Regions from separate parts of the Homo sapiens genome. Here regions 1, 3, 4 and 5 are each linked to region 2. Evidence: fine-mapped expression QTL. A gene starts in region 2. Each other region holds a variant in brackets. All regions are shown on one strand. Distances are between the middles of the regions. Region 1 overlaps SPTLC3 (serine palmitoyltransferase long chain base subunit 3). Region 2 holds the start of SPTLC3 (serine palmitoyltransferase long chain base subunit 3). Region 3 has its middle 13 kb from the start of LINC01722. Region 4 overlaps LINC01722 (long intergenic non-protein coding RNA 1722). Region 5 holds the start of LINC01722 (long intergenic non-protein coding RNA 1722).

Region 1 (5,104 bases), 160 kb after region 2:
ATACACGTACACATGTGCACACACACGCACACACACACAGAGTTGCCATGTCCTTCGTCTTCACCAGTATAGCCTCAAAACATAAACCATTGTATTGTACACAGTAGGTACACAGTACAAATTATTGAGTAGCATGTTAACAACTGAGCTAACCAGATTTTGAGATGAGTGAACTTTGTTTTCTTTACACCCTTCTATATTTCCCAGATTCTCTAAAATGAGTATGTATTTCCAGAATGTGAATTTTAACAAATTGTTTCTTTTAAATGAAATGAGTTGGTGTTAAGAAAAGACAGGCAAAACTTTCAAGAAGTCTGACTGTAGAAAGAAAAATAGGTTTAGAAAATACCCTTGAAAATGTAGAAGGCTTGAGCATGTTTACACATTAAGGGAAGAAGACAGTGAAGAGGGGACCTTGCACAGAAGGGAGAGAAGAGAGCATGGCCGGGAAGCAAGTTCCCTGAGATGGCAGGAGGGACACACAGCATGGATGAATTTGTAATTTTGTGCTCCAAGCAGCACTGAGGTATTCATGTATGTGATTCTCTTCACAACTTCTTAATTGCTGCAAAACACCTGCTTTGAAAGGATACTGAGACATCAGTCATCTAGACAAATGCCTCTAAACTGTTGAGATCATGTGCCCATCTCAACAGAAAATTTTGAGCAGTTCCTTAATGTACATGTAAGAGAAAATGGAAAATGACCCTGATGAACAGCCAGTACATTAAGGTAGCAATTGAACCTAAAGGCTCATAGACTAGAAATAATATTAGACAAATGCACTCTGCGACCACATTTGGACAAGACAGAGACAAGGCCACAATACTTAATGTCTCCCTCTTCTGACTGACATGTGTGACAGTTGCTCATTCACCAATAACAACTCTAGCCTCGCTTTCATTCTCTCGCCTTTCAGATAGAAATTATAAATATATAGCCAGCCAGTGAACTGCTCCCACTTCTTAACAGCATCCAACCCAGAACTGGTCCCTGCTTCCTTAGAGTCATCTCAGGCACAAGCTCAAATGCAGTGAGAAGCCACTCCCATCTTCCTGTCACTAAGATGCCCACGGTTCTTCTGCAGTGTCCTCCCTCTCCCATCTCAGCAAGCTAAAGAAACCTAACTCTGAGCACGAGTGTGTTCTGGGTGGTCTTGGATCAGCAGACATTAACATAAATTCTTTATAAATGATCTATGCAATACCAATATATTACGTACATTATATAAGAGACACACAAATAAAAGTTTAAAAGGTTGAGATAAAAATGAATAGAGGTCGGGCGCAGTGGCTCACGCCTATAATCCCAGCACTTTGGGAGGTTGAGGTGGGCGGATGACCTGAGGTCAGGAGTTCGAGACCAGCCTGGCCAACATGGTGAAACCCCATCTCTACTAAAAATACAAAAATTAGCCAGGCGTAGTAGCATGTGCCTGTAATCCCAGCTACTCGAACTGCTGAGGCAGGAGAATCACTTGAACCCGGGAGGCGGAGGTTGCAGTGAGCCGAGATCATGCCACTGCACTCCAGCCTGGGCAACAGAGTGAGACGCTGTCTCAAAAAAAAAAAAAAAAAAAAAAATAGAAATCCTAATGTTTTCCTCCTGCATCCTCCATAAATTATCTCACAGATGCCCCAAATGTGCAGATCCTTCACTTTGGATACCACTGAACTAGTCCATCCCCCACCTTCAGCAAAGATTGCTAGAAACTATCCCAGAGAGGTGTCATTTTAAAGATAACTTTGGTTACTTTTTCTTAGTACTGAGATTTGATGTAGGAAATTTAGAAAAACAGGGAAGAACATTTTAAATACTCATACTCCTACCACCAAGAAATCAATTACTGTTAACAAGTTGGAGGAAATCTTAATTAATGTCAGTTTGAAAGATTTCCCAAAGAGGAAAGTCCATAAGATCTATTAGTCACCCATTCTAACATTAACAACCCTCACCTTACCTTTTCAAAGCATTAGACCCTAATATTATCTTCCTCCTCATTTGGCAGGTTAAGAAAAACAGGCTCAGAAAGGTTAAAAAGGCATGACCAATACCACAGGATTGGTGATATACTAGAATTGAAAATGACCTTTTTTTTATTTTATTATTAATATACTTTAAGTTTTAGGGTACATGTGCACAACGTGCAGGTTTGTTACATATGTATACATGTGCCATGTTGGTGTGCTGCACCCATTAACTCGTCATTTAGCATTAGGTATATCTCCTAATGCTATCCCTCCCCACTCCCCCCATCCCACAACAGTCCCTGGTGTGTGATGTTCCCCTTCCTGTGTCCATGTGTTCTCAGAAAATGACCTTTTTTTACTTCCTGGATCTCATTTGTTTCATGTGCAAAATGGGGGATACATGTACCCACCTAAAGTAAGAGAGTTGAAACAGACAAGTTCTCAGTCCCTGTGAGTTAAGTTCTAGTATTTTCTGGGACACAGAGATGAGTATTTAAAAGCAGGAGGCCTGGGGTAGCATGAGAGGACAGAGGATGATGTTAATCAGCTCCCGCAACATTCCTCTTTGTTCTTGGCCAGGTGATTTGCTGTGTCATGAAGATATAACTTCAAATGCATTCTGCAACCTTATCTTTTTCTTCCACAAGACTACATATAAGTCACTACATTTTAAAATAAAACCTTTTAAGGGTAAGCATGGGTCACATGTTTTTATTCTTCTCTTCACACTCTCAAAATAAAATAAACATTCATAGTATGGAGTTAGACCACTAAATAAAATTAATTAGCATCTAACATTCCTCTAGGGTCTTAAACCACAACCTAATGGTACGGATCTTGCTTCTTTTCTTTAAAATCAAAGAAGCTAGCAAACTAAGACTGTGTGTCTTTGTGAGGCTTGCTATTAATCTGGGCTCTGCAAAGCAGGGCTACTTAGGTGTTCAATGATAGCTATTGGAAAGCAATCTCATTGCAGGTTTTAGAAGCTCTTGATGAAATGGGTGATCTCTTGCAACTGAAATATTCCCGGCACAAGAAGTCAGCACGTCCTGAGCTCTATGATGAGACGAGCTTTGAACTCGAAGATTAAGTTTCCTGGTCCTGAATGACACATAAAGACTTTGCGAGAAAGACCTCCCTCCTTGCCTCACAAGGAATATAAATGGATTTCTCCCCCTTCCTCAGGACAATTTTGGTTCCCAGACCAGCTTGA[T/C]TGAACTGAGGGAGACGTTGTTGTTTTTAATGTCTCCAGCTTGGACTGCAGAGACAAAAACATGATTCCAGATTTAAGTCTCTCTTCTTCCAAGTATTCTACTAGAAATACACACACACACACACACACACTTCTGAGAATATTTTTAATGGCAATAAGCCTGTGTTTTAGCTGCTACTGTGCAGACCCTTTCAGGGATTCCAACCAAATGCAAATGAGAGAATTTAAAATTTTTATTCAGTAAGTTCACTATGTGTTTACTTATTCCATCTGCAGATGTAAGTGAGTGTGGTGGACAGTAGCCACCTTCCTTGTTCCACTCATAAAAGCATCAGCTAGATCTCATCTGTATCATGGGAAGTTCCAGGCAGGAGGGTAAAGAAATGTTGTTTCTACCATTTGTCACATTTGGACGTTTTTCACAGACAAGTGTCAAAAGACATAGTTAATGTTTCGAGGGGGAAAGCAGAACTGATCAACTGCGACTAGAGACGTCTTTGAAGGAAATTTTCCTTTTCCTCTTGCTGGTCTCCTACAGTTTTACAGCTGAGCTTTTGAGGTTTGGAAAATTCAAGATGTTTGTTTCATAAGAAAAGGGGCAGAAAGCAAGCACAAGACACTTTTAGGTCTAGACTAAAATGGTAGTTACAACAATTTGAACCTTGTTGGTGCAGTGCACGGTGAATGCTTACCCTGCACAGCCTCTATTACCTTAAGGAATTAGTTGTCATTTTCCTATTGAATTTTGAGTAAATGGTGAAATTCAGTGTCCTTTAGAATCGACTCCCAAGACTATATTTGAAGAATGCATTGATTCAAGAAGGACATTTAAAAGCAAATTCTGACTTTTTCAAGACCAACACACTTGTTTAGGCCTATTAAATTGTACTATCACTTGTTACATGCCCTCTGAATTGGGAGAAAGTGGGCTTGCACACTTTGAGGTAACTAACTGTAATTTACTTGTGTTCTCTCTTTCTTGCTCTCCTTCTCAACATGAACACAAACCTCTATGGAAAAGTAGCCTCTTGTTAATCTGATCTAGTTTGTATGGAAAAAGCCCATGGAGAACCTTATCTTTAACAAGCTCCCAGAGGGTGCCCAGATTTGGAAATTCTAGAGAGCAGTGGTGACCTTTTAGCAAAGCTTCTGTAACAGTTCGAATGAGTTGCAGAACATTCCACTCCATCAAATGACACTGTAAACAAATCACTTCAAGAGAGGCTTGGTTTTGTGTGGCACAGATGGACCCAAGCTTTCATGCTGTGCACTGAGATAGAAACTCCACCCGCAGCGCCTGCGATGGATGGAGCAGTGTGCCCTGATGCTCAAAGCGTATTAAAGGAAAAAAAGTGATCAGCATGGAAAGTTTTTATGGGGAAATTATAACTCCAAGTGGGTGCATTGGTTTAAAAATGGATCACAATGATAGAGTTCTTCATGAATGTTTACAAGTTGTAAGGAATACCGTTAGTGAAAGAGGAAAAGAAGTGGGTTCTGAAAATGCAGTTTCCCATCCAATGATTTTGATAACAAAATTCCAACTTTTCTCAATGAAACTGATGCAGTATTATTTGTGCAAATAAAATGTGTCATAAATATGCAAAGAAAGGGAGACATACTGTTCTTATCTTGAATATGTGCATTTAAATGAATTGTCCAAAATGCATAAATGCCTTGCGTTCTATAAAGGAAACAGGAGGTCAAAAAGACAGCGAGATATCTAGTCCTTCCACAAGGTATGGAAAGCAATAAACATCTTCCTTTCTTTCTGGATCTGTCTGTGATGTTTACACACACCTTCACATCTACACTTCAAGTTTTAAGCCCCTAGACATGTGTCTTCATGAGCAGGAATGTCCACTATTATTACTTTCATGGAGGATATTGGGTCTAATTCATTGTGGGAAACTACTTACCT
Region 2 (5,108 bases):
AATCTATGGAAATGAATGGTCTCTACGATGAGAATTTTTCCAGATTGAACTCTTCGGGAAATTTAAGTACTTCCACGTAGACTTATTAGTAGATATTGACATGTCATTAGTCATTTGTAAAAAAATTTAATATATTGCAAATTTTTAAACATCAAAAAGCAAATAAAGCATTTTTATTCATTATTTGGCCAATCCAATGAAATCTCCCAAATAATAACAGATTCTGTTATTTCTTTTCTTGGTGGTTGATGGTTCTCAAGTCAACAGCTGAAGGAGAGGTGTCATGGTGTAAGGAAAACGGCACTCACTTAGACCCAGACATTCTTGAGTTCATGACCCACTTCTACCACATATTATTCTGTGGCTTTGGAAAAGTCACTTAACCTGTTGAAAATTTAGTTTTGCATGAGCATCACTCTCCATTACATGGGTAAAACTTGAGTCACTGAGAATGAACAGATTTCTGTACACTGTACAATTCTGACAGTTCATTCTGCTCATATCCTCCCATTTTTGCCAACTCTCTATCCCCAAGTTGTTCCAAGAGCGTTTTCACAACACATTGCCAAGCCTCTGTCCTTCCCTTTCTTGCCTATCCTCATTCTGTTATCTCCCTTTTTGGCTGCTTCATTAAGAGAGGAGCTGAGAATCTGGCATCTGGGCAAAACCATTACTTTGGAGAACACCACAAGGCCATTGCTAATTTTATCATCTTTGCCTTTAATGTACTAGTGGGAAGATTTATTTCTACCTTTAATAGTAAGATATCCTAAGTAGAAGGCATGTGGGTACTGCTGAGTCTTAGTTCTGTGAAGGTGGAGACTGTGTATGTTTTATTCCTTGTGAGAACCAAGGACTCAGCAAATACAGAGTACTTATTCAAACATTTTCTGAGGTTACTAGTTGATCCAAAATGTATTTAGTTGTTCAGAGATGCCAAATCTTGCTCAATATTTAGTCTGTGTTTTAGTATTGCTCCAAACCTTAAACCTAAACCTACCACTGACTTCAACAGAACTCTTCGCTTATTTTAACTGGAGATGGTATGAAGCAATGAGTCACCACTGACTATACATACCAGCAGTGCCTGATGCCAAATGGTTGGTGTGTTAATATAATTTTGTACACACAACAATGCACACATTCCAATACGGTAAGTAAAATAGAAAAGTTTCAAGAGTGAGAGCACGTAGTAGATATTTCTCAGAAATCTATGTGTGATTACCTAACCTTAGCAATTGCAATTAGGGGAAGGAAACGGAGAAAGCAGAATTCAGCTGTGTTTTAAGATTTATTTTATATATACCTTTTGTCCCTTGTAAAAAGAAAATTTGAAAAAGAAGAAGAAAAAGAAGAGGAGGGTGGGGGAGGAAAGGGAAAAGGACAAATGTGAAAAGAGGAAAGAGATGGAGAAGAAGAAAAGAAGAAAGAAAAGAGACATCTAATGTTAAAAAAGTTTTATTTCAAAATCTTTATTAAAAAAATGCTTTGCACTGAGCAATAGAGCTCAGGGAAAATAACGCCCTCTCTTCAACTTGTCTTTCTAAGTAACGTGAGGCAGTTGGGCCAACAATAGTGCTCCCCTCTACCTCTTCATCTCTCCATTTCCTAAATCTTAGAAGAAAATAAACCTACAAGAGTTTAGCCCCCAAATCTCAGTGAAACAGCCATGGAAGGGAGAGACCAGTGAAAATCTACTTCTACTTTGATGATAAAGGTTGAGAGAAATGCGATAAAATTTTTGAACTTGAGACACAAACTGGGCTGAACACACTTGGTATTAACTCCGTCTTTCACCTTGGCCTCAGGCCTTATCTTATTCCTCCAGCATTCCTTGGGATGGTAAAGGCAGGTACCCTCATATGCAAGTCATAGTTAGGAGAAGCGTTAGCATGTCCACCTCCAAAAGCTACATTAATCTGGAGTAGAACTGAACCCTGTCCAAGGGAGCTGAGTTACAGGACATGAGGCTCTGGAAACAGGGGCCATTTCTTTCTTTTTGTTTGTGTGTGTGTGTTTGATTGTTTGTTTTTGTCTACTGCCCCAATAAATTGGTTTCTTTTCTTAGAGTCTGATGCTAAAGAAGTCTCGACTCAGGAAAACCACAAGGGTGGACTTGGGAAGACTCAACAGGTTGTAATGACTCTCCAGCAAATCATGTCACCATGCCATTTGATGATGGTAGGAAGAAACAAAGCCTTGAAGATTCATGCATTGAGAGAATAAGAGTTAGTGAGTAAACCAGATGTGTTTCAGGACTGGGACCCTGCAGTCATCAACCACCTCACACCTGCGTCAGTAACAAACCCAAGCTACAGCATGATTTTTGTTCTACCTCAGCAGATATTTTATAGATGGAAAAACTGAGGCATAAAGTGGGTAAATACCTCCCCCAAGGTCACGAGATAAAGATAACGCAGTCATCAAATATTCTGTCTCCTCAACATCTGTCTTACTGGAATTCTTGATGGATTGGTACCCCCTTATTATAGTACTGATTTTAACATAGGTTGGTTTTGAATACTGGGTTTTTAAAAATCTTTTCAAATCATTTGTAAATTATGGAAATGTATACATCACATGAAACTTACCATTTTAATCATTTTTAAGTGCACAGTTTAGTTTAAGTACATTCACATTGTTGTGCACTGATCCATCACTATACCTTTTTCATCTGCTCCAGCTCAAACTCTGTACCCATTAAACAATAACTTCCCTTTGCCTCATCCCTCCAGGCCCTGGCAACCACCTCTGAATGCTATTTTATAGCAAAAAGAAATATTAACTTTTGAGCTTGGTTTACAACCAAAAACCACAATTACATGCAGGAGAGAGGGGGTGGGAAAAAGAGGTTAACTCAGAACTCAGTTACTTAGAAGACTCTGTGAGTGTGCTGTGTGTGTGTGTCTTTAAAAGACTCTCCACCTCCCAGCCCGCCTCCTCACACTTTGCCACTGGGTTGTTCAGTCCCCAGGTTCCCTCAGTCCCCAGAAGGAGCCAGCATGGACAATCTCCTTTACAGTTTCGGAAGCAGGTTTGTTGCCATGGAGTTCACATTTTGACGGGAGTTGAGAAGTATAAAGGTAACCATTTGTTTTAGTTTCAACGATCTGACAAAAAGATAGGCTGTTGCTCTTCTTCTGGAAAAGCCTGATTGGTAAGATTCCTTTAAGGGCTCAGCCCCAAAGAGCTTTATCCCATCCCCTCGCAGACTGAAAACTAAAGCCTGCAGAGACCTCTGAAGGAAAACCTGTCCCGGGCTCTGTCACTTCACACCCATGGCTAACCCTGGAGGTGGTGCTGTTTGCAACGGGAAACTTCACAATCACAAGAAACAGAGCAATGGCTCACAAAGCAGAAACTGCACAAAGAATGGAATAGTGAAGGAAGCCCAGGTAAGAGGCACTCTCCCCTACTCTTCTCTGAATTACCTGAACGTTTCAATATTTCTCTGTGAAGATATTTGAGGCTGTCCTAACTTAGAGTTCATCTTATGAAGGGTTTTTACATGTTTTGACTGTTGACTCTGTTAATAGAAAGTGCTTGGCTACCAAAAAGTTTAGGTGTGGATTAAGGAGAAAATGTCTTCTGTATGCAAAAGAGGATACACACAGACTCACACAGCTTCAGGCTCCCTAAAATACAAATGTACCTACTAGACTTTTGTCTCAAGCATTTTGCGGGGAGGGAAGAATTAAGAAAGTTCCAACTCTTTGCATATATTTTTGTCCAAGAGACCTGCTACAACCGTCATGCTTCAGAAGAAAAAGAGGAAGTGAAAGTACATTTTGCTGACATTATGTGGTGGAGATGGCATTCTTCCCAGGTCCATGAGAAATGCATCACTGTTTGAAAGGCGAGTTATTATTGGTGTGTAGTGGAGCATTGTTTTAGCTCACTACTTGATTTGAGGCCACAGTATTTCTTTGAAATGTGACGTCACAGACATTCTTTTCCAAAACACTTCAGAAAGCAGGGCTGATTGTGACACACTGCTCTCAGAAAACAGAACAGCATCTTTAAAACAAACTTGTATTTTCCAACTTGACACTTTTTTTTTTTTTCACTCTTATTGCACCGGGATGTTTGCAGAGTGTCCTAGGCAGGAGGAACTCGAGGAAAGTTGTCAGCTTGTTTTAAGAGAGAGCCTGGGTCTGTGAGGTCCTTATGTAAGGCAGTTCCCCACTCCCCACAGGACATCCCGTGTCACTCTGCTCTGAGCAGCAGAAGTGAGCTCATCTGCCTGAGGAGCAAGCCCAAGTAGTCAAACAGGTAGCCTCCTGTTTGGAAAGAGAAGTGGCACAGGGAGCCCCATGCAATCTTCCATCATTTGATCATCCAGAGAGCAAGTATCCACCCACAGGAAAGGCAGATTGTTCTAAGATCACAGGACAGGTGGGTCTGGCTGGGGCCAGTCCTCCTCTCAGTGAATTACATTCGTGTGTGCAATTGGAAGAGGCTAAAGGAGCTCTAGAGCCTGAGTTGTGTGTAAACAGGCTGTGGTCCCCAAAAGCATTCCCCTCTTAACAAAAGGCACTGTCCAACGCTGGGAGGTGTCTATCAGAAACCTCAGAACTGGCCTGTCCCACCTGAGGATCTGAAACCTGGAGCAATGTGAAGAGAAGGTGCTCAACTCCTGTCAGTTGTATGAAGGAAATTGCAGTAATATCCACCACTTATGCATCACTAAATATCAATTCAGGCCACTACTCAAGACGATCCTTGCCTCTGGAATGCCTGTAACTCACAAGCTATTCATCTACTTACCCTTGTGATTATTCTGACCCTGAGGGATCTCATCTGGGAAGAGATTCCTTCTTAACTTTTCTCCCTTTTATTTATTTTATCTTGGTTTTATAATCACATTCGAGGTATGAGATTAGAAACTTAGACAGTTATAACCACTCCTAAGTAAGGATAAAACCCAGGATTCTAAAGGTTCATTATGAAGTGCAGCTGCAAGACTGTAAATATCCTTGGACACTGAGGCTTCCCTAAGAACGGTCGAAAACATCAGGGCTGCTGTTGCCTTCCTGAAGGGCCATCCAGAGCCTCTTGTCTCAGACATATTTAGGTGTCACTAAGCTACAATTGGCTTTCATTGAGAG
Region 3 (5,108 bases), 43 kb before region 2:
TTTTCCACTAACCAATATTAACACTTGAAGCACATAGGGACCTTAAAGTCCCACCAAATGGAAATTCCCACAGTGCGGGAAGTGGGCTTTATACCACAGGGACAGCTGATTCCCTCCTCATCAAAGAGACCCTCTGTGTTCAGCAGATTTCAGAGACTCTGGCATTTTTGTAAGGGAGTTATGCAAACATGCTTGACTAAGTAAAAGGGTAAGACCGGTTTTGCAAAGAAATAAAAAATCAGGCCATAAAATTTTAAGATATGCTCACAACAACAAAACTATATTTTAGTCACACACCCTATGGTTTTATGGGAAATGCCTTTCCCTACTGAAAACTTAGAGGTACTATCACCTCTATAAACTACTACCCCCTAATCCTCAAAGGGAGAATTTAAGAACTCTGAAAGTTCTGATCCTCTGTTGAATTTTATAGAAGAAGCTTTACAAGGCCATGAACCACCCCTTCTGATTCTCTAATTCTGGAGAAAACATCAACAGCAGCAACAAAAGATTCCTTCTTTTGTTTCTCAGTCCCACTGAGTTTGAAAAGGTCTCTGAGTTCTTCAAACATCAATCTGGATTACTTAGTGGACAAAATTTAAAAGATAAATAAATAAATAACTCTTCCTGGCATTTGAGTTATAAAGAGACACCCAGGTTTGGTGTCACTGTTATTGGTTAAATCCCCTCAGCTCAGGGAGGGAATGTATTCTCTTCCTCTTTCCTGAAACAAAGGAAACATATTTCATGTTGGATGCTTGGTTATGGAGGGATCAGTTTCCAAGTGATTTAGTGATTATAAGCCAGTCCTTATTCCCCCATGAAACTACTCGAAAGTTGACATTTGCCATGATATTCAAATGAAAGAGAAGAAAAAAAAGAGTAGCTCATTTAGAAAATGCATTTCCCTTTGTCTATGTCTTAATAAAGCCATTGTGTCTATTCTCCATTAGGAGATCTGTGTCTGAGCTCTCCTAAATTACCTGAGAGCTTAGACTGTAACACGTGACTCGAGAAGAGCCTCTTCCATTAAAGACTATGCCAACTAACAGAACTTCAGCTCATGTTGTATTCAGAAGTGAATGTCTGAAGTCATTATATATTTTAGTTTCAAAAAAATGATTTTGAGAGGCATACTATTATTCAAGAGTGTGTTTATCCTGTGATAAGTTTCTGGAAGCATCATTTGATACTTGTCTTCTTTTTACATGGAGTGGGAGGTTGAGGTCCAGAGATACATAAAAGAATAGGGAAGGTATGTGAAGTGCTGAAAACAAGGGAGAGAAAAAAACAGAGAGAGAATCAATGAGAAAGACAGCAATTGAACAGGTCTTAAAATGTCTCATTCCTCCCTAATAAATTAGCATATATAGGAAATCTCAGTTTTTTTAAGGAGCATGAAGGGTAGGGCATGAAGGGTGGATGGCTTAGCTTAGTCCATTTTCTGCTGTTGTAAAACAGTACCAGACTGGGTAATTTATAAAGAACAGAAGCTTATTTGGCTCATGGTTCCAGAGGCTGGGAAATCCAACATCTAGGGGCTACACAGTGAGGGCCTTTTTGCTGTATCACAGCATGGCAGAAGGCAATACATGGTAAGGGACAGAGAGAGAAAAGGGAGATCAGACTGAGATAACTAACCCACTCCTGCAATAGTAAGCATTCACCCATTCATAGGGGCAAAGTTTTCATGATCTAGTCACCTCCTAATGGTCCCACCTGTTAATTGCATCACAATGTCAATTAAATTTCAACAGGAGTTTTGGAGGGGACATTCAAACCATAGCAGTGGGAAGGAAGAGTTCTGAACCTAAGGAAGCCCACAAGTGAGGCAACAAATCCAACTTCAAGAGTCAAAAATTAAAGCTAATATTGCTGGTTGTTGTCTTAGTTTGACATCCCATAGAGGCAGACCCTGATGCAGGGATTTGAGGACAATTAGCATATCTCTGAGGCAAAGGAAACACAAGTAGGACAGTGAGGAAGTGAGACACAGAAGGGAAATCAACCATAATGATAATAAAATCCAGCCAGCACTGGAGTGACTGGGACTCAGTCCCATCAGAGAATTCTGGGAGTTAGTGCAGAACAGATGCCTCAAAGGTCTTCCCTCTCTGGGGGTAAGAGAGCTGGGATACTCATTGACTGCTGCTTCTAGGGGTATTCATTTTGACACTTTCAGCACTGTCCATGAGCAGGCTCAGCCAGGCTTGCTCACCAGAGAAAGCTCCCAGGCACAGTGATATAGGCATTGGCAGCTGGAATCTATGAGTATACACTGAAGTGAGGGGAGGGAGGGTGGATGAGCACCAGCAGTGTCAGCTACATTTGTGCAGGGCTAAATATAAAGAAAGGGTTCTGCAACTCCCACTTTGTATCATACCCACAAAGCAGCTGACTTCCATGTTGCACAAGCTATTTTATAGATACATCACTTCATGTGACAGATTATGAAGCACAATTAATCAGGGGCCAATTGAATTTTAATACTGCCTCCTTTAATGACCTAGCAGGGCACAAAAGCTCTAGAAATACAAAGCTGCAGAGGATGGACGTGTTCTGCCTTTCATTTCTCAAGACAGATTTGCAATGATCAAGAGGCGTCCTGTGAATGCAGTTTGCAAAGGACTTAGGCACACAGCATCT[CCT/C]TTGTTCTCACCACAAGGCTGCCGGGTGTGCAGATGTGAGGATTATTTCAATGGTGAAGAAGCATCCTGAGAGGTTACGTAGTTCAACTAATGTCACACCAAGAGGTATGGACTTGACCCACTTTCTTCTTTCTGTTTTCTTCTTCCCACCATACCTTGCTGCATTATAAGACTACTGCCAGTTCAGGGAAGATTTTAGCTAAAGTTAATTTAAGGCCTCCAAGAATATTTGAAACTATGTGCTATATCTAAAAATATATAAAAATGATGATAAAATATAAAGTTGTGTTTCAATTTCTGACACACTGGTAGTTATAATATACAGATACAATAATGACTAAATCTCTAATTTCTGTCATCTGAAGTTGATTCTAGAGCACTTACTACTTGGAGAGTATTAAATATAAAATGAGCCTGAACTCTTCCTTATGGCATCATTGCCACTGCATTTGGAGAGTCTTCTAGGTTCACAGATTTTTGACCCACTTTCTTTAGCAAAAGCTCAGGAAGTAAAGTCACACATTTACTCACATTGCACTCAAATGTGTGGAGAAAAGACAGCATCTTTATTTCTCTAAAATGGACTTTTGGCTTCTCATAAGTGCCATCTGCTGGGTTGTATGTGTATGTCCTTGTGAATGTACAAGTAGGTTCAGAGGCATTAGAATTCTCAAACCTTTTGGTTGAAGCCTAACATATTTAAAGGACTGTGCAAATGTCTTAAATATACATCTCCATGATTTTTCACAAAATAAAGACAGGGAGTCAGCTCTCAGAGCAAGAAATAGAACATCATCAGCACAGCAAAACCACCACGCCCCTGCCATCTCTGTTACTATATCTTAGAGTGGGAGTAATTGACATAATCCAGTCTAGTAACCTAGGTCTGATTTAATATCTTAATCATGCATAAACTATTCATTATGTAAAACACCCACTCTGTCAGACTGTGCCACTCTCTCCCTTCTCTGCCCTCAGCAGGAGAGCATCTGGGCATTTGGACATGGAAGGTGTGGGGCACAAGCATCTCATGGCCAGGGAACGGGGGAGGAGCATCTCAGAGCTGCATCAGAGTTCATGCTGGTCCTAGGACAAGAGTCAAGCACACCCTGCTTTCACCAGCTGCTGGTAGCTTTCACTCAGGTAATGCACAGCTGAACAGAACCCAGTTCTTTCTCTTGACTGGGCCCCCATCAATACATTAGCTCCGAATGATGCTGTGAACCTCTCTCAGTACAAGTTCCTAATCCTAACCCAGATGATTCCAAGATGGTGCTTCTTTCCCCACCATGATAACCTTTCTGCAACATCCTTGACCATTCTCACCATTATTTCTATTTCCCCTCTTTAAGAACATGTGGGTATATCTGGATCCCATTCATGTCATATGTGAACTAAGGATAGCTTGAGGACATTCAGTGTCAAGCCCTCTCGTCTTATGCCTTTATCACTGTGACATTTTCTCCTCCCAGGATCCCAAATGCGAAATAGGTCTTGAAAGGGATATCAGACACATGTCTGACCATGCGTCTCACCATTACATCAGTCTTTGGCCACTGTAGGAGCACCATTGCCCATCGCCATATTAAAAGTGGCCACCTGCAGAGTCTTCCTTCCTTAGAGTCTATGCAGAAGCCCAAGAAACAGGCTGCAGCCCCAGTAATCTGGGGCTACTCTATACCTCTCTGGATGAACTTAACCTGCCACATTCCTGGGGGTAAGAACTTCAAGAACTGACATGTTCACTCCCTCCAATATCTGCCTTCCTTCCTTTTCTGACTTTGGATATGTAAAGTGATGATCTTCAGGCTTGGCTCTCATCTTTATTGTATTATAGCCTATCCTATCCCACTGAGCTTTTCTTTCTTCCACTGCATATCCAACCACTCCTCTCTTAGTGGTCCTAGACAGGAGGGGTCTTCTTTGCTGTAGAAGAAAGCCTGTGATCTCAGCCTGTAGGTGCAACTCTTAGTCTGCTCAATGGGGCCTACAGGAACCTTAGAAAATCTTTTCTCTCATAATAGAGGCTGACTCTCAAGGTTCTTATTAAACAACAACAATTTTGCAAGTCATGTTGTTCTCTTTGGATTTCTGCTATAGCAATTCTAATGTCTCTTCATCCTCCCATCCCCTACTCTCCACTTCACCAATCTTCCCAAGGCAATGGATGCTTCAGGCTGACTATGGAGAAGGCAATATAGTTAAAAACAGAAAAGAGAAAAATGTGTCAATATGTCTCAAAATATTAATCCCAACATACACAAATAAAGTAGTAAGTTGCATGAAGAGTAATTTTAGCATTTCACCCAATATTCCTGCATTTATGCAGAACCATGCATTGTAACTAAAGAACTCTAATTTACTAGCTTCGGAAGCATTGAGTTAAGAAGATTTTTTTAAAAAGTCAGCAGACATTCATGTTTATATGATCCTTTATTGTTTAAAGATGTTTTCACATAA
Region 4 (5,108 bases), 78 kb before region 2:
AACAGTCACTACACCCTTGATGCATCCTCTGCGGGGGGCTCAGGGCCTCAGGAACACTAAACACCACAGGGGACCAGGCTTCATCCTGACACACACTGGGAATCAACCCAGCTGTCATTTCCATGGGTGTGGAAGAAAACTAATGACTCAAGGCTTGAATCATAAGTGGTCCAGCTTCCACTGGCAGAGGTAGATAAGTCAGTGAGAAACTCAGATACATTCACAGCAACTGCAGCCTCTGACCGGAATGGGTCGAACCTGCAAGCCACCCTTGGCTTCAGCCTGCTTTTAGTTCACAACTTTGTGCAAAAGAGAAATTAGCAGCAATGTGAAATGTCACAATTTGAAGGAGTCTCTGCCAGGGCTGGACAGTTCAATTTCCTTTTCAACTCACTGCCCCAACATTGTCCTGCTACTTTCAAGGAGAGAAATTCAAGCATAAGGGCTTTGTGAACCAGGCTGAGAGCTCTGGACATGGAAGGAGAGGGAAGGGCCAGGTTCTCACTGGGACACATACTGTGGTGTGTAAAGGCATGGACCCTGGACCAGAATAGCCCAGGCCAATGCACTGCATCATTTCTCCTATTTCTGGGACTTCTGGCAAGCTCCCTGGACACTTCTGTAGCTCAGTCTTACCCTTAGTAAATAAGGCTAAGAGTAGCACCTGCCCCTGAGTTTTTATAAGGTTAAAATCACAAAAGATTCAGAAGAATGCATGGTATAGTGAGGGCTCAGTAAATGTTTATTATTTTTTATTATGATTTACCAGTTATTCTAATTTTGAGCAAGAGGGTTTCTCTGAGCTCTAATGAGGAGTCTCACCCTACCTCAAAGCAATGCAGGACAGAAAAGCCCCCAAATTGGGGCTTAGCCTGGTTCTTGGCTTCACCCAGGAAAGAACGTAAGGGTAAGCTGGTGGTGTTAGACAGCAACTTTATTGAAGCAGTAGCCTATAGCAACAGAGGCACTGCTCCTTGCAGAGGAGGGTTAACCCATAGACAGTGTGCCCACAGTGGCATCTTACAGCAACATCACCAGAAACAGACCTGTGGCTGAACAAGTTGTTTCTCACTCATTGAAATAAGGGAAAACACTGTGGAGAACTGTGGTGTCTCTCAGTAAGAGCATGTTAAAAAAGACAGTATAGGATGTGGGACTTTAGTTAGATTCCTGTCTTCATCAGCTCTGGCTGCTATATAACGAAGTACTGTAGCCTGGGTGGCTTATAAACAACGGCAATTTATTTCTCACATTTCTGAAGTCTGGGAAGTCTAAGATCACAATGCCACCATGGTTGGGGTCCAGGGAGGATCCTTTTTTGAGTTGCAGAATGCCAATTCCTTGCTGTTTCCTCACATGGCAGAAAGAGGGTGAGAGAGCTCTCTGGAGTCCCTATTATAAAAACACTGATCCTATTTATAAGAGTTCTACCTTCACTCCTCAAACACCTCCCTAGGCCCCAGCTCCTACCACAGTCACCTTGGGGGTTAGAATTTCAACATATGAATTTGGAGAAATGTAAACATTCAGTGCTTACCAGTGCTTTAGGGGATGTTTTACAGAATCGGACTTTTGCTCTGAAGTGGAGGCCATCAGGAAGTGGTGTTAACACTATGATTGAATACTTTAAAAATGTGATCTACAATTTGGAAGGAAGTAAGGTTAAAGCTGTGGTTGGTGAATAAGCCACTGTTACACATATTAGCTGGGAATGAGGAGTGTTTGGTCATTTGTGTAGTTTAGATAAGGTTCACGTTTCTGTCTGCATTCAGACATGACTGGAGTGGTCTTCTTTTTGTCTTGATTCACCACCATCACAGAGTGGCCTTTTCTGATGCTGGTACTCAGTGAAATTGTTTATACTCAGCCAGAGAATATTATGACCTAGCTGTGAGTGCCTGTTCTACTCCTAGCAACACCAAGAACTAACAGTGCTAGACCAGTTCTCAAATATGAAGGGTTGCGTCTCTGTTTCTTTCTACCCTCTTTTGGCCAAAGCAAACTAGTCAGGCATCAGGATGTAGATCATTGAT[C/A]CCTACCATTGCTGAGACATTGCTAATCTGATATTTATCCAGAGCGCACTGTCTGCAGGCAAATTAGGGTTTTAATTCACCATCTTGTATTAGTCAGGACATCTCTTTTCTTCTAAAGCATTTCAAAGTCATGAACTAACCTAAAAATCATACGTGCTATAACACCTTCTTTATCTCTGGGCAGCTGACATATCTGAGTGAGGGCAATTAAGTCAGCCCACTGGAATTATTCAATTTCTGAGAGAAGCTTGTATTGCAAGGCCAAATTTAAGTTTCTGATCACGTAAATGGCTTTATAATTTTTAGCTTTTCTTTTTCAGTATGAACCACATAAAATCAAAATAAAATCACATTTATCTTGGCTAGAAGGTTTGCATGATTGTGAATAGTTCCCAAAAGGCTGGAAATTATTGGGTCCTCTTTCATCAGATAAAAAATAAATCAATCAACAAAATAAAATACAAATTAAAATAAAAAAGATGATGCCTGGGTTCAGAGGGAAGCAGCAATGGATGTAGACCTTTGAAGGGTAAGGCGGTAATATTTCATAGATGTCACATGACTGTCAATAAAAGAATCTGTGTAAGATGAGAAATTGTTAAGTGTAGTAGAGATCCTAGAACTAAGTCAATGGAAGTTTTCATACATTTTGCTATTGCTGTTATAGATCTTAAACAAGGTCGATATAGCTTGGCTACTAGAGCTAACAAAAGACTAAAATAAGCAGTAGGTCCCTAATGATTCCCACATAATTGGGTCAACACTTACTGAGATTTTTTATAAACAAAAAGTAAAAAGGGATTTGTGAATCTAGAAACTTGGAGAAAATTCTTTTAATAGTTACTGTTTCTGTGTGTATGCTTAAAAAGGAACATACTTCTTTTAACTTGAAAAGTATATGATTACTAAAAGCTAATTCTAGTAATACTTTTTACTAATATAAAATTAACATCAGCTCTCTTCTGGATTTGACATGTTTGGAAAATCTTTTGTATGTTTTTAAATCCCAAAGTTGAAGGACTCTCATAACAGTTTTGAAGTATTTAAAACCTGAAGAGTTTCAACAAACCTAATTATTCCTATTTTCCTTTATTTTATAGGGTGAAAGAGCAAAATTATTCTGAATTTTGGAAGGGTAAAAAAAATCATTATAAAGGACATGATACAAAGTCAAATAATTTCAGGCAACATTATAAATATTTTGTAAGTAACTGTTCTAATTAAGAATCAATTAAGAAAACTAAACATGAAGTTTCTTGAAAACTGATTTAAGTGCGTACAAAAGGCACCAAAATTTAACAGAATAATTAAATCACAAAAAGAAACTTCTACAATCTAAGCATAAAATAGGCCAGTCATGTTACATAAAAATGACACTCATTTTTTTCTGTTTTACGTCATTTTTGTAATAATTTGGAGTAAAAATTGAATACATGTCTCTGCATGTATTCAGGCATGCAGAGACAAGTATAAAAATAAGTAATGTTAAAACTTTTACTCATAGCTTTAAAAAACAACTAACTTACCAGCATATTAAATAATACATACATATCATATTAACTTTGTCCCATGAATAAGCTATTAAACATTTCTTAAGCATAAAATTATATATTCATATTCATATTCATATTTCTCTAATTATCATACCTTGTGTAATTAAATATTTATATTAATTATCCTTATATTAAATTAAACAAATATATATTATAAAATGTAATATATAGTACTTCATATTATAAATATATAAAACATAATTATATTATAAATATATAAAATATATAATTTGTTATCAATATGCAATATGTGAATTACATTTATAATATATAATATAATATTTATATTACTTATCATCTCTAATCAAAATAACCAACTTCTTTTTGCAGACACACAAAAAGTTAGAGAATAAAAAAGGAATTGTTTTATTATTTTTCTCTAAGAACACATATTATTTTAACATTTCAAAGGGAGAACAACTTTTTGCTTCTTTCTTTTCACAGTTAACAGCTTAATTAAAATAAGATTTGCCTACTATAAAATGTGCCCACTGTAAGTGTACAATTCAAATTGACTAAATTTATAGTTGCACAAGCACCACCACAATCCTACCTTAGTACATTTTCATACTCCCCAAAAAAGGTCCTTCACATCCATTTGCAGTCAATCCTGTCTTCCATCCCCAGCTTTAGTTAGGCACAATCATCTGCTTTGTCTCTATAAACTTGTCTTTTCTAGACATTGCATATAAATGGAATTACACAATACATAGGCTATTTTCGTCTGGATTCTTTTACTTAGCACAGTGTTTTTAAGGTTCATTCATGTTCTAGTACATATATTAGTTGTGTGCTTTTAATTATAGAACAGTGTTCCATGGTATGGTATACCACATTTATTTAACCATTGGCCAATCGATGGGCATTTCAATTGTTTTCAGTTAGACCTATTAGGAATAACACTGCTAGAAACATTCACAGACATGTCTTTGTATCAACATGAGTTCATTTTTCTTAAATAGATTCCAAGAAGTGGAATTTCTGGGTTGCATGGTAAGTTTAACTTTTTAAGAAACTGCCAAACTTACTTCCAGTGGAGCTGCACCATTTTAAACTCATACCAGCAATGTGTGGGGATTCCAGTTTCTCTTCATCCTCACCAACACAAGCTACTGTCTTACTATAGCCATTGTAGTGGGTATTTAGTAGTATATCATTGTGGTTTTTATCTATTATATATGGACCTATGATCCACTTCAGTTAATTTTTTGTGCAGTATGAGACAAGAGTCTTACAGTTTTCGTTGCTCTATATACCTGAGCTTGTGGCAATACTAAGATGTCTTGATTACTGGAGCTACATGGCAAATTTTGATAACAAGTATGTAAGTCCTCCAACTTCATTCTTCTTTCCAAATATTCTTTTGAATATTTTAAGTTCTTTACATATCCATATAAATTTTAGCATCAACTTGTTCATTCTGACAAAAATGCCTCCTAAGATAATTACAGGATTGGTTTGAATTTGTAGATTAATTTGGGGAGAATTGTGATCTTGACAAGAATTAGTCTCTAATCAATGA
Region 5 (5,108 bases), 57 kb before region 2:
ACTCTGCTTACCTTCCACCAATCACCTGCTAACCCCAGTATCCACCCCATAAAACTTTTCTAAAAACTGCCTTGGAGCCAACACAGGAGACAGATGAGCTTGACTCCTGTCTTCTTGGTTGTTGAATTTCAGTGTAAGGCTTTTATTTTCTCAAAACCCATTGTCCTAGTATTGCCTTCTAGTGCATCAGGCAGTGAGCCCCTTTTGCTCCATAACACTGTTTCCTTCCTACGAGCAATGTCATTTACCCACATTGGGCTCTGCTGTCTTCAAAGGTTCTCCATTTGTACATTCACTTTCTGATTTTTCAAAGTTCCATGGCATCTGTTTCTTCTAATGGTTAAGAGTGGCCAGCAAGACACCTTGTCATGAAGATGTTTTGTACACCAGCCTGGGGGCCAGGGTAAATTCTGCCAAGACATCAGCCGTGTTTTTCAGGCTTCTCTCTGCAAGCCTCAAAGAATGTGCAAACCACAGCATGTTTGTGGTAGCCTCACATACTGATCCTACAGCACTTATGTCCTCCTCACTCTTCATTTTGAAGAAGGTTATCTTCAAAATGACCTTGCTGTGAAGCTCTGTTAGCTCTGATAGGGCGCATTTCTCATTGACATAGTGATTCAGAAAATGCAAGCAGCATATCAATGACTGTCATCTGGACTTCCATACCGATGGGACATATAGGGGAGGATTGACAGGTAGGCTAAAAATGCTGGGTAGAGAAGCTGGTGCCAGGAGAAATTTTTGGAAATTGAGTGGAGGATCTAAAATCCTTGCAGCCAGGAACTAAGAAAACTGGGGTTGGGACGTGGGGAGAGGGAAGCTGTAGACTATAGACTGTAGTCAGAGGCTGAGACTCAGGGCAGGATGCAGGTGAGAGTGGAGAGGCTTTCCTTAGGAGAGGACCATGGGAAATAAGTCTCCATGAAAGGGCCTTGGAGCAGGAGCCAGAACCCAATCATCACCATCCCTTCACCCCATCCCTTCAAGCCCAGCCCCTCTCTGCCGGGCTCACTCCCTGGTAACCTGGCTTTTATCAACCCCCTCTTCCTGGCTGGCCAATCCCCAGCTCCACTCCATGTGGGTCACAATCTGACCATTGTGACCTAATGCTCCCCCACCCCACTTGTGATTCCGTCACCGGAATTTCTTCTCAAGTGGTCTCTGATCCAGAGAGACACACCCAGCGGCAGCCGTTGACTCCCTCCACCCTTGCTTCCCTCTCAACCATCTCACCTCCATCTGTCCAGTGGAGCCAGATGTCCCACCTTCTTGGGAGAAATTAATTGAGGCTCATTTCCAGGACAGAGGGGCAAGCTGGGTCTGAGGAGCCAAGCAGAAAAACTTCCCAAAATCACTGGGTGGGGAGGGGTCAGAGACTTACTGCTGCCCCAGCTGTTCTGACTCTGCCCCCAGCTTTTGGCCCCACCCTTTTAAAGCACCTTCAGAGGTTCCCAATGGTGACAGTAAACAAGTCTCCACTGTCCTGGCCATCTCTGCTGTGTTCACCCTACTCCTGATCTTTCTGGCTGCTCAGGGACTGACAGCCAAGATGTGAGGCTGTGATGAGCAGGAACAGGGAGGCCTGGAGCCCCCAGGTGAGTGGAGTGGCTTGGCTTTAGGGAAGAGCAGCCTAGGTAAGTGGATATGGATGGAAGAGGCTCTGAAATTTGGGATCTGAACTTGGGGATCAAGGCAGCAGTTCTTTCTTTATAGGAACTTCCTATTAAAAAACATTTTTTTAATTTTTTTAATAAAAACAGGAAAGAGCCTTATAGGAAAGGGCTCAGTACTGTAGCCCAGGCTCTCAAAAATTATCAGTATAACTTAAGGTTTCTATGCCCAGTTACTTTTCCTATTTTAGTATAATAAAATAAAATATCTGACTCACTAGAGGAAATGCATAAAATGTGTACTCGAAGCACAAAGATAATTAATTAAAGAATCCCAGCATAGCCATCATTTGTCTTAAGAAACAGAGCAGTATTTACCTTAGCCTTCTTCTGTGGGCCCCCACCCCCTATATCAAAAAACCACCTCCTCGGTAGCCATTATGCTGAATTTTATGTTTATTTATCAATTGCTATTCTTTGTAGCTTGACTTCAACTTTCTGTACTCTTAAACAATATATTGAATAGATTTGCATGTCCATAAATTGTAAATATGGCTTTACAGTATATTATTCTCCGGGTCTTTTTTTGTGGTGCCGTATCTTGCTCCCACTGATGCACCTCCTGAATGTCTGTCATTCTCACCTATGTCTCTCCCTTTCTACCCTTCTTCTAGCCATTGTCATCACTTCCCTGATCTGCCTAAATTCTGCCCAGCAGTCCGTGAAAATGGTTTGCTGATGACATATGTAAGGACTTTAACTCCCCTCAAGCAATCTGCTCATCTCAAAGGGTAAAACATTGGCTCACTCCTAATGCAATAAATGACACATAAGGTCACAATTCAATGGTACTCTCCTTGGATACTGCTTCTTATGTGAACATCAAACTTACACTTGCTTCCTACACACTAACATATCTTGTATATTTGGAGTAAAAATTAGAGAAGTACATACAGGGATTTAAAATATAAAACATTTTTTTAGTTACCATTTCAATCTCGCTGCTTGTTATTGGTCTGTTCAGGGTATCTAATTCTTCCTGTTGTAAGATAGGAGGGTTATATCATTCCAAGGAGTTATCCACCTCCTCTAGGTTTTCTAGTTCATGCGCATGAAAGTGTTCATCGTAGCCTTGAATGATCTTTTGTATTTCTGTGGTGTCAGTTGTAATATCTCCCATTTCATTTCTGATTGAGTTTATTGGGATTTTCTGTCTTCTTGGTTAATTTTGCTAATGTTCAATCAGTTTTATTTATCTATTTTATTTATTAAGCTGGTTTCAAGAACAAGCTTTTTGTTTCATTTATCTTTTGTATTGTTTTTCGTTGTTATTTCAATTTCATTTAGTTCTGCACTGATCTTGTTTATTTCCTTTTTCTTGCTGGGTTTGGGTTTGGTTTGTTCTTGTTTCTCCAGTTCTTTGAGGTGTGAACTTAGGTTGTC[C/T]GTTTATGCTCTTTCAGATTTTTTGATGTTGGCATTTAGAGCTGTGAACTTTCCTCTTAGCACTGCCTTTGCTGTATTCCAGAGGTTTTGATAGGTTGTGTCACTATTTGCATTCAGTTTGAAGAATTCTTTAATTCCCATCTTGATTTCATACTTGACCCAGTGATCATTTAGGAGCAGGTTATTTAATTTCCATGTATTTTCATGGTTTTGAAGGTTCCTTTCGGAGTGGATTTCCAGTTTTATTCCACTGTGGTCTGATAGAGTACTTTATATAATTTCAATTCCCTTAAATTTACTGAGGCTCATTTTGTGGCCTATCATAAGGTCTATCTTAGAGAAAGTTCCATATGCTGATGATTATAATGTATATTCTGTAGTTGTTGGGTAGAATGTTCTGTAAATATCTGTTAAGTCCATTTGCTCTAGGGTATAGTTTAAATCCATTGTTTCTTTGCTAACTTTCTGTCTTGATGACCTGTCTAGTGTCGTCAGTGGAGTATTGAAGTCCCCCACTATTATTGTTTTGCTGTCTATTTCATTTGTTAGATCTAGTAGTAATTGTTTTATAAACTTGGGAGCTCCAGTATTAGGTGCATATATATTTAGGATTGTGATATTTTCCTGTTGAACAGGCCTTTTATCATTATATAATGTCTCCCTTTGTCTTTCTTAACTGCTGTTGCTTTAAAGTTTCTTTTGTCTGATATAAGAATAGCTACTCTTGCTCGCTTTTGGTCTCCATCTGCATGGAATCTCTTTTTCCACCCCTTTACCTTAAGTTAATGTGAGTCCTTAAGTGTTAGGTGAGTCTCTTTTTTTTTTAATTTTTAAATTATTATTATTATTATTATTATTATACTTTAAGTTTTAGGGTACATGTGCACAATGTGCAGGTTTGTTACATATGTATACATGTGCCATGCTGGTGTGCTGCACCCATTAACTCTTCATTTAGCATTAGGTATGTCTCCTAATGCTATCCCTCCCCCCTCCCCCCACCCCACAACAGTCCCCAGAGTGTGATGTTCCCCTTCCTGTGTCCATGTGTTCTCATTGTTCAATTCCCACCTATGAGTGAGAACATGTGGTGTTTGCTTTTTTGTCCTTGCAATACTTTACTGAGAATGATGATTTCCAATTTCATCCATGTCCCTACAAAGGACATGAACTCCTCGTTTTTTATGGCTGCATAGTATTCCATGGTGTATATGTGCCACATTTTCTTAATCCAGTCTATCATTGTTGGACATTTGGGTTGGTTCCAAGTCTTTGCTATTGTGAATAGTGCCTCAATAAACATACGTGTGCATGTGTCTTTATAGCAGCATGATTTATAGTCCTTTGGGTATATACCCAGTAATGGGATTGCTGGGTCAAATGGTATTTCTAGTTCTAGATCCCTGAGGAATTGCCACACTGACTTCCACAATGGTTGAACTAGTTTACAGTCCCACCAACAGTGTAAAAGTGTTCCTATTTCTCCACATCCTCTCCAGCACCTGTTGTTTCCTGACTTTTTAATGATTGCCATTCTAACTGGTGTGAGGTGGTATCTCATTGTGGTTTTGATTTGCATTTCTCTGATGAGGTGAGTCTCTTGAAGGCAGCAAATAGCTGGTGAATTCTTATCCATTCTGCAATTCTGTATCTTTTAAGTGGAGCATTTAGGCCATCTAAATTAAATATTAGTATTGAAATGTGAGATACTGTTCCATTCATAGTGCTATTTGTTGTACGTATATGCAATTCTCATCAAAATACCACCATCATTCTTCACAGAACTACAAAATCAATTCTAAAATTTATATGGAAGCAAAAAAGAGCCCGCATAACCAAAGCAAAAAGAACAAATCTGGAGGCATCACATTACCTGATTTCAAACTATACTATAAGGCCATAGTCACCAAAATATCATGGTACTGATATAAAGCTAGGCACATAGACCAATGGAACAGAACAGAGAACCCAGAAATAAACCCAAATACTTACAGCCAACTGATCTTTGACAAAGCAAAAAAAGACATAAAGTGGGGGAAAGGACACCCTATT

The links. PIP is the estimated chance that this variant, and not a neighbour inherited with it, causes the effect.
Region 1: its variant is fine-mapped to the expression of SPTLC3 in whole blood (TOPMed, PIP above 0.99).
Region 3: its variant is fine-mapped to the expression of SPTLC3 in CD4 T cells (BLUEPRINT, PIP 0.95).
Region 4: its variant is fine-mapped to the expression of SPTLC3 in whole blood (TOPMed, PIP above 0.99). The same link has a PIP of 0.9 or more in blood mononuclear cells.
Region 5: its variant is fine-mapped to the expression of SPTLC3 in whole blood (TOPMed, PIP above 0.99).

The regions. Positions count from the first base shown.
Region 1 is chr20:13,161,808-13,166,911 of GRCh38, forward strand. It overlaps SPTLC3 (serine palmitoyltransferase long chain base subunit 3), which reads left to right. Exons shown (of 12, transcript NM_018327.4): 12 at 2,947-5,104. The coding sequence ends at 3,060. It also overlaps a transcript of TASP1 not described here. Among named protein-coding and RNA genes, the nearest start is that of ISM1, 57 kb to the right of the region's middle. The variant T/C (reference allele first, on the strand shown) is at 3,184.
Region 2 is chr20:13,005,990-13,011,097 of GRCh38, forward strand. SPTLC3 (serine palmitoyltransferase long chain base subunit 3) reads left to right here and starts at 2,983. Exons shown (of 12, transcript NM_018327.4): 1 at 2,983-3,395. The coding sequence starts at 3,279.
Region 3 is chr20:12,963,420-12,968,527 of GRCh38, forward strand. No RefSeq gene overlaps it. Among named protein-coding and RNA genes, the nearest start is that of LINC01722, 13 kb to the left of the region's middle. RefSeq lists a silencer at 3,102-3,396. The variant CCT/C (reference allele first, on the strand shown) is at 2,647.
Region 4 is chr20:12,927,561-12,932,668 of GRCh38, forward strand. The region is part of intron 4 of LINC01722 (long intergenic non-protein coding RNA 1722); the gene reads right to left. Among named protein-coding and RNA genes, the nearest start is that of LINC01723, 20 kb to the right of the region's middle. The variant C/A (reference allele first, on the strand shown) is at 2,034.
Region 5 is chr20:12,949,164-12,954,271 of GRCh38, forward strand. It overlaps LINC01722 (long intergenic non-protein coding RNA 1722), which reads right to left and starts at 3,356. Exons shown (of 12, transcript NR_109868.1): 1 at 2,602-3,356; 2 at 1,237-1,323. It overlaps LINC01723 (long intergenic non-protein coding RNA 1723), which reads left to right and starts at 1,177. Exons shown (of 2, transcript NR_109870.1): 1 at 1,177-1,598; 2 at 2,288-2,464. The variant C/T (reference allele first, on the strand shown) is at 3,057.